Linked DNA regions of Homo sapiens. The protein of the gene in region 1 purifies or fractionates together with the protein of each later gene. This does not show direct contact. Each region holds a gene or a part of one and is shown on either strand. Other genes may lie near its edges.

Region 1 (3,822 bases):
GGTGGCACGCACCTATAATCCCAGCTACTCAGGAGGCTGAGGCAGGAGAATCGCTTGAACCTGGGAGGCGGAGGTTGCATTAAGCTGAGATCGTGCATTGCACTCCAGCCTGGGTGACAGAGTGAGATTTCGTCTCAAAACAAAAAAACAGAGGTTCAGGGATGCTGGCACCCACTCGAACATCCTCACAACCAGGTGTCATCCAGGTAGCCCCACCGTTCCTGAAACTCCATGCCTAGTGAATCAGCAGCCAGGCTCTGAGTACCGGCTGGGCTCATGGTTGGCGGAGGATCTAAAGGCCTGGCCCCATGCCCCCGGATGCATGGTGGACATGGTGGACATGGCGGACATGGCGGGGTGGTCTGGAGGGGCTGTGCAGCAGGAGGCTCTGCCCCCTGGGTTATGTACAGGAAAGGGATGTCAGGCGGCAAGGAGTGTGAAATTGACAAGGGGTTTTAATTCACAGGGAAGAGGCTTCTGATGAAGTTTAAGTAAAAAAACAAACAACAATGAAAAAAAAAGATATAAAATTCTAGTCACAAGAAAAAAATTAATGGGCCAGAAAAGCAGTCAGGACAGACACATAGCTGGGTGACCAGTGCTCACTTCAAAACTTGGAGCCGGGAGCTGGGGGGTGGTTTCATCTTCTTCATGCTTTTCTGCTGTCCATCTTCTCACCAGTGTACATGCATTGCCCTTTCTGATCAAACCAAGAGGGTGGTACAGATACTAACATCTTCCCTGGGTGCCAAAAATGCTCTAAGCATAACCTACCCCTTTCATGGAAGTTTTGCACAGTGAGAATCATCAGCCCTATTTCACAGATTAAGAAACTGAGGATGGAGCCTGAACTGAAGACTCCACACAAGACCACAGGGCTGGGAAGTGGCCAAGCTGAGGTTCAAACCCAGGGCTGTGGACTGGGGTGCAGGGCACTTCCAGGGGGCCCAACCATCTCCCTACTTGTTTCCTTTAAGATGAGGCCAAAACAACTCCTCTTGCCTCTGCCTTCTTCCCTCGACACCCCTACACCATCCAAACTCAAACGGCTCCTGTATCTCCAGGCTGATTACATCAGAGGATAATAATAAAAAGGGTGTTGCAATTGGTTAAAATTCAGATGGGGATTAAATCATGAAATAATTGTGGGATTTTGATATTTATAGAAAAGCAGCCCATCTCAAGATGGGTGAAGTGACAGGAGCGTCCTTATATTTGGCAAAGGATCCATAAATACAACCAGATAATCATGAAGAGACAGACTTCCCTGATGCTTCAGGAGTTTTCAAAAATCCATTTGCTTTCAGGGTTTAAATGAGCAATAAATCCCGTGTCATGCTAAGGCCCAAGCTGACTTATACCCTTCTCTGTGCATGTGGAGATAACTCCAACAGTGGCGGAAGGTATTACTTATGCAGCCAGGAAAAAAAAAAAAAACCACAGGCGACTGTTAGCTGAGCACAGCCCCGTGCCCACAGCAAGTTCTGTGCGTGAGCCTTTCCCAGCTTCACAATAGCTGTGGGAGGTGGGAGAACAGGCAGCGGGTGAGGTCATCCACCCAGCGTCCCCAAGGTGGTGAGGCACAGCCTAGCACCTATCTCTTAGGCCACTTCTGCACCTTGCACAAATGAAAAGAAGAAGCACCATTCAGAGAGAGAGAAAAAGTGTGTGCATGTGTGTGCTTCTGCGTGCATATGTGTACATGTGTGCATGTGTGTGTGCGTGTGTGTGTGCATTGTGTGCGTGTGTGTCTATATATGGTGAAAGATGCTGGTGCAACAGAGAGAGGGAAGTATTTTTTTCAGTTTCTGAGACAGCATCACCTGGCCTTGCCATGCTAAAAGCTGACCCTGCTCACTCCACCCTCAGGTATGGGTGATCCAACAGCAGCTGCCCCAGCTCCCCTTCCCGTCCCTGCACTCTGGCCAGGCCGGAGCGCCTGTGTCCTGGAATATGCCCTGCTTTACTACCACCTCCCTGTTTATGCACACACCTCTCCCTGTATTTGGAACTTGGCATCTGGCAGCTTCCCTTATGAAAATTCTCCTTGTCCTTTCCCCTGGGATGCACAGTGCTGCGCCGATGGCAGCCCGTATTATAGGGACGAGGAGGGAGGTGTGGGGCCACTGCTGGGCCCTGGCGAAGCTGTGAGGAGTGAGCCCCTCGAGGTCCTGTCCCTGGGAGCCCACCACAGCCATGGAAGATGGACAGCGGATGAGGCAGACGCAAGGGCCTCGTGCCAAGAGGAGCTGTACAGCGGGGGCACCATGCTGGGCAGACGAAGGGCGGGATTTGCTCACTGGCTCAACACAGCTGAGTCCTAGGGCTTCTGAGGAGGATGGCAGCAGAGCCGCCTACCTTCTATCACCAGTGGGTTGTGGTAGTGAACTTCCAGGCGGAGATATCTGGAGGACCCTGGACCCCCGAAGGCAAGGCCGGCTTCCTCTGGGTAGTAAAATGCCTGTGTGGGGCAAGGTGTCAGACAGACGGGTGTGTCCTGAGAGGGCCCCAGGTCTGGGCAGGGGCAAACCCAGTCAACTGTTGGGGCCTGAGCCTCAGGGGTGGTGGAGGGGGCGCAGCAGGATTAGAGCGATGCTTCCTCCTGACAGGCAGCTCATTACACGCCCCAGGAACATCCTGTGAGACTCGGGTCAGGGAGTTGGGGAGAGGAGCTGGTGCCTAGGGCTGAGCCTTCCCCCAAAACCCCTTCTCTAGACGGGTGTAAGAGCTGGGGAGACCCCCATCGTCTCAGCCTGTGGAGGCCTCAACACTGGCCCCACCGCCAGCCAGCCCTGGGACCACCTGTACACAAAACCCTGACTCCAGTTGGGAAACAGAATCAGGACCCACTGAGGGCATAAGGTCCTGCGGCACTTGCGTTTCTGTGGAAAATAAAAAAAAGGCTTGAAGCATTTCAGACATCACAGAGGCGAGGGGGCCACCTCAGGCCTGGCCCTTCTGGTGGCCTCGTGAGCCCCCTTGGGAGCCCCTTCTTGAAGCCTCTGAGACGGTGAAGCTGGGGAAACAGAGGTGTGGGGATGCCAGGGGCCCAGGCAGGAGACACCATGCTGGGGTCGCAGGGCACGCACCTTGGCACCCAGGGCCCAGGCGGCCAGCACGTGGCGGCAGTAGTTGAGGCGGTCGGGTTTCATCTTGGAGTCGCAGGGCCCGCTGAAGTGGGGGACGCTGTCCATCTCGGGGGCGCACTGGAAGACTTCCATGTGGTGGACAAGGGCCTCATTGCCCTTGGTGACGATGGGCTCGTACTGTGAGGAGGCAGCCCTCTGAGCCCGGGAACCGGCCGCCCACCCTCCCCTCCCCAGCAGCCCTCCTCCATGGGCTTCCGAATGCCCATCTGTAAAATGGGAGGGATGATCCAGACAATTTCAGGGGCACTTCTGGGGTTCACAGCCTTGAGGGTGGAGCCATCAGCCCAGAAAGAAATCCCGTAGGCAGCTCCAGAGTGAAGGAAATGAGGTTCGTACAGGCCAAGGCAGGGACAGGACGCAGCCGTCCTCATGCATATGGGGCTGTGGCCGGGCCAGCTCCTGCAGCCCCAGTGGGAGGCAGGGCAGCCCTGAGGTTAGAGCCCGGGCCCAAAGCGCACCTTCAAGGCCATGCCTCTTCCTGCTGTGTGACTCTGGACACTCACATAACCTCTCTGAGTGCACCTTCAAGGACATGCCCCTTCTTGCTATGTGACCCTGGACACTCAACCTCCCTGGGCCACACTTCCTCTGCTGGAAACTAGGGGCTCTTATGATGAAGGAGGGATCACCTCGCCCCTCCCCCGGGACTAGTGGCATAGTGGACACTCGACAG
Region 2 (3,822 bases), on another chromosome or scaffold:
TATCTTCATTCGAATTTAGATTATATCATTAGTAATAAAATTTTCACAAACAAGTTAGTAGTACTTATTTATTAACAAATACATTTTGGAGAGTTCCAACAGTTTAAGGTGTCCTTCTCTTTTAAACAACTTACAAACTATATAATTATCTTTGCACTGAGGCTATAAATTTCCATTTATATAACATATTTTTCAGATAGGGAAAGTTAATATTGAATAATCAATGAGCAAGGAGAAGCAAGCTTTAAGAACTTCCCAACTCTTAGGAATCATGAAAATAATTTTTCATGATTATTTTAGTGTCCCTGAAATTATCAAATGCATCATTTCCATTAAAACATATATGAGTATAAAGGGAAAATATGAAGTTTATTCAAAAGGAGCAAAAAAGGGAGATCAAATGTATGAAAAGTTCTTTATATCCTAAAAATGAACAACAGAAAGAACAAGTTGTAATTGGTAATACAAATCAAAAGATCACTTTCCCTACCAGTTTTGAGACTGCAAATATTTTAAAAATTAGAAATAGTTTTAATATTGTATTATTGTTCTATGTATTATATATTATAGTTTGCTTCATAGCAGATGCCCCCTCCCCCTTAATTAATCTAAAACCTTAAGGATAAATAGTTCCATGTGATTCATAATTGTTGAATGAATACAACTTTTCCTAAAGTTGTTAGGTTTCATAGATTATTCCTGCCACTTCTAGGATTTTATGAATCTATACTTGTCACAGTTTTCTGAAAATAAAGACAATAATAGTAGAGAACATATATCAAGTCCTTATTTATACATATTAAAAGGCAATCTAGAAGAACAGTTAAGAGCCACTGTCTGAGTTCAAATACTGCCGCTTCACTTACTAGCTACATGACCCTGGGCGAGTTACTTCTCAGTGTCTCCATTTACTTATAAAATGGGATAAGTACCTACCTCATAAGGATTAAATAATAATTGTTTAGCTCAGTGCCTGGAACACAGTTAATGCTACGTAAGGGTTAGTTATTATTATTACTATGTGCCATGTATGAGTTTTACTTTACACACATTACTTCATTCTCATTTAACCTATTTTTCATATGAGGATATTGAGGTTTACAATGGCTAAGCAACTTGCCTTAGTGAAAAAAAGCTAGTAAGTGGAAGGGCCAATATTGAAGCCCAGGTTCTCTGATAGCTATGCCAGTGTATCCTCAAACTAGTCTCCGTGGATATATCTGTAGAGATTCACAAGTTTTTCCTCATTATTTTTAATTTAAATCATTCTAGGGAAAATTTTCAAATGAAAAACATTTTCATAGAGTAGACTTTAATTTCTGAAATCATCAAACTGGTATATGCAAATCCCTGGCATTCACGGGAATATTCTCATAGATCTAGGATTTTTTTTTTTTTCTTACAAAGCAGTCAACTCGTAAAACTTCAAACATAACATGGAGCTTTCATTCTTCAAGAATGAGAGAATAGGCCGGCTGCTATGGCTGACACCTGTAATCTCAGCACTTTGGGAGGCGAAGGTGACAGGATCGCTTGAGCCCAGGAGTTCAAGACCAGCCTGGACAACAAAGTGAGATCCTGTCTCAACAAAAAATACAAAAAATTTGCCAGATGTGGTGATGCAGATCTATAGTCCCAGCTACTCAGGAGGCTGAGCTGTGAGGATTGCTTGAGTCCTGGGAGGTTGAGGCTGCAGTAAGCCATGATCACACCACTGCAATCCAACCTGGGTGACACAGCAAGACCCTGTCTCATATTGAAAAAAAAAAAAAAAGAATGAGAGCAACAGCTATTTTTCAAAATCCTTATTCCCCATATTCATTTTAGATACCAAGTTCGGGACCTTTTGGCTAGTCTACTTTAAGAAGTAAAAATATTTTTTAAACGACAATGACATTAAAACATGTTACTTCTTTGTAACAACTGGTCTTGATTTTAAAGAAAACAACAACACATTAAAAAAACAAACATTTAAAAGTATTCCCTTAGTAAACAGTACTAGTACTCACATTCAGCACCAGTCTCTCATCTTTACTCCAATTCTGTATCTACAAGAGCCTACAAGAATTTTTCACTTGAACAACTCAAATAATAAGCCCCAAGTAAACTCATTTTCCCTAGACCACTTTTCCCCAAACAAGATCCCTCTTCCACATCTCTAATTCCTCCAATGATATTATCATTCTCTCAGTCATCCAGGCTCATGGCCAGAATAATCTTTGACTCCTATCTGTCTCTTATTCTCTATACTCAAAACCATATGTCTTTCTTCAAATGAATTTCATTCATAGGCCCAACTCCATTCCCACTTATCCACCTCCTTCAGGTGTCATCACCCTACTCCTTCCCTCCAACCCTATCACTGTCTAAACCATCACCTGTTTATCCTTCTTAAAGGACCAATTCGATCATGCTTGTCCTCTGCTTTATAACCTCCATGAATTGCCATTACTCAACCTACAGAATAAAATCCAAATGTTGAATTTAGAACTTTTGATCATGTAAGACTGATCATTTGAGAATTTACAGTGAATTCTCCCCTTTTATAAAAGTGTGTAACCACATAATATCCTGTATGTTTCTTAGCCATTTCCTATTACTGTTATTAGTGGTGTGGAGGCTTCTACAGAAATAAGATTTCTTTTATATATCCTTACCAGATACTAAGTAGATAACCAATTACCGAGTTAGATACTACCAGTTAACAGTGCATATATCCTGAGTACCTGATATGTGATCATTTATTCAACAGATATTTGCTGAATAATGAATCTGTGCTGAAGATACTAATGTGACTTCCATCTACTAAGAGATTTCCATGTGCCAGACAACACTAGTTTAGATGCATTATCTCACTTAATACAAGTCATCCTCAGATAGTATTATCAATCTCATTTTTAGTATGAGGCAATTATATCTCTAGTATAGTCTACTTTAAAAAGTAGAGCCAAAATCAGAACTGAGTAAAAAGTTTGTACTCTTTAACACTGTATTCTACTCCTATAGAAATATTACTCTAAAGAAAGGAGCTGTCATCTATTTGGCATGGTGGACACACAAATATAATACTTTGTCCTAAATACTATGAAGGATGCAATTAATGTCTTATTTGAGCACAAAATGATGGGCCAAACTCTAGGGTAAAAAGATGGAGAGTCAGAGATATCTGGAGATGACATGTTTAAGAATGAATCACAGTTACAAAATAAAGAAACATTCCCAAAAAAGGGGATAACCTGTGCAAAGGTAGAAAAGCACAAATTTCATGACTTACTCAGAAAACAGCAAACAGTTCAGTTTTCTAGAAAGTAAGTGTGATAAGGGAGACTGGTAGAAAGGGCAAGCATAGTCAGATCATGAACAGTTTAGCCAACGAGTTTAGATTTTGGCCAATAACTAAGAGAAAGCCATTGTGTAATTTTAAGCAAGAGGGAATGATCACATTTGTGCTTTAGAAACGCTGCTCTGTACTGACAAATGGACTGGAAGAGCTACAGCCTAGAAGCAGGGACACCATTTTAGGTTACTGAAAGAGTTCAGGCAAGAGACTAACCTAGAACAGTGGCGAGGGACAGAAAAAGATTGATTCAAAAGATATAGAGGAAACAGAACTACAGGACTTGGTATCCAATTAGGTTGGGGGTTTGTAGGAAGGTGAGGGAAAGGAAAGAATCTAGGTAAATCCAAGGTTTCTCTCTTGAGCTCTGTCTGGGTGGATGGAAGCACCATTAACTAAACAGGGAGGAGGAGCAAAAACAAGGTAAATATAAAGAAAATGTCAGATGGTATTGGTACATACTTCTAGTATACCCAAAAGATGTC

The links.
Region 2: the proteins of DBH (region 1) and LEMD3 purify together in Homo sapiens (affinity purification with mass spectrometry; one large-scale study listed by BioGRID and IntAct). This does not show direct contact.

Annotation. Positions count from the first base shown.
Region 1 is NC_000009.12:133,642,857-133,646,678, reverse strand, and holds part of DBH (dopamine beta-hydroxylase precursor), read right to left. Parts: intron 3,267-3,822; coding exon 3,090-3,266; intron 2,462-3,089; coding exon 2,359-2,461; intron 1-2,358. UniProt on the Homo sapiens protein: Catalyzes the hydroxylation of dopamine to noradrenaline (also known as norepinephrine), and is thus vital for regulation of these neurotransmitters.
Region 2 is NC_000012.12:65,175,793-65,179,614, reverse strand, and holds part of LEMD3 (inner nuclear membrane protein Man1), read right to left. Parts: intron 1-3,822.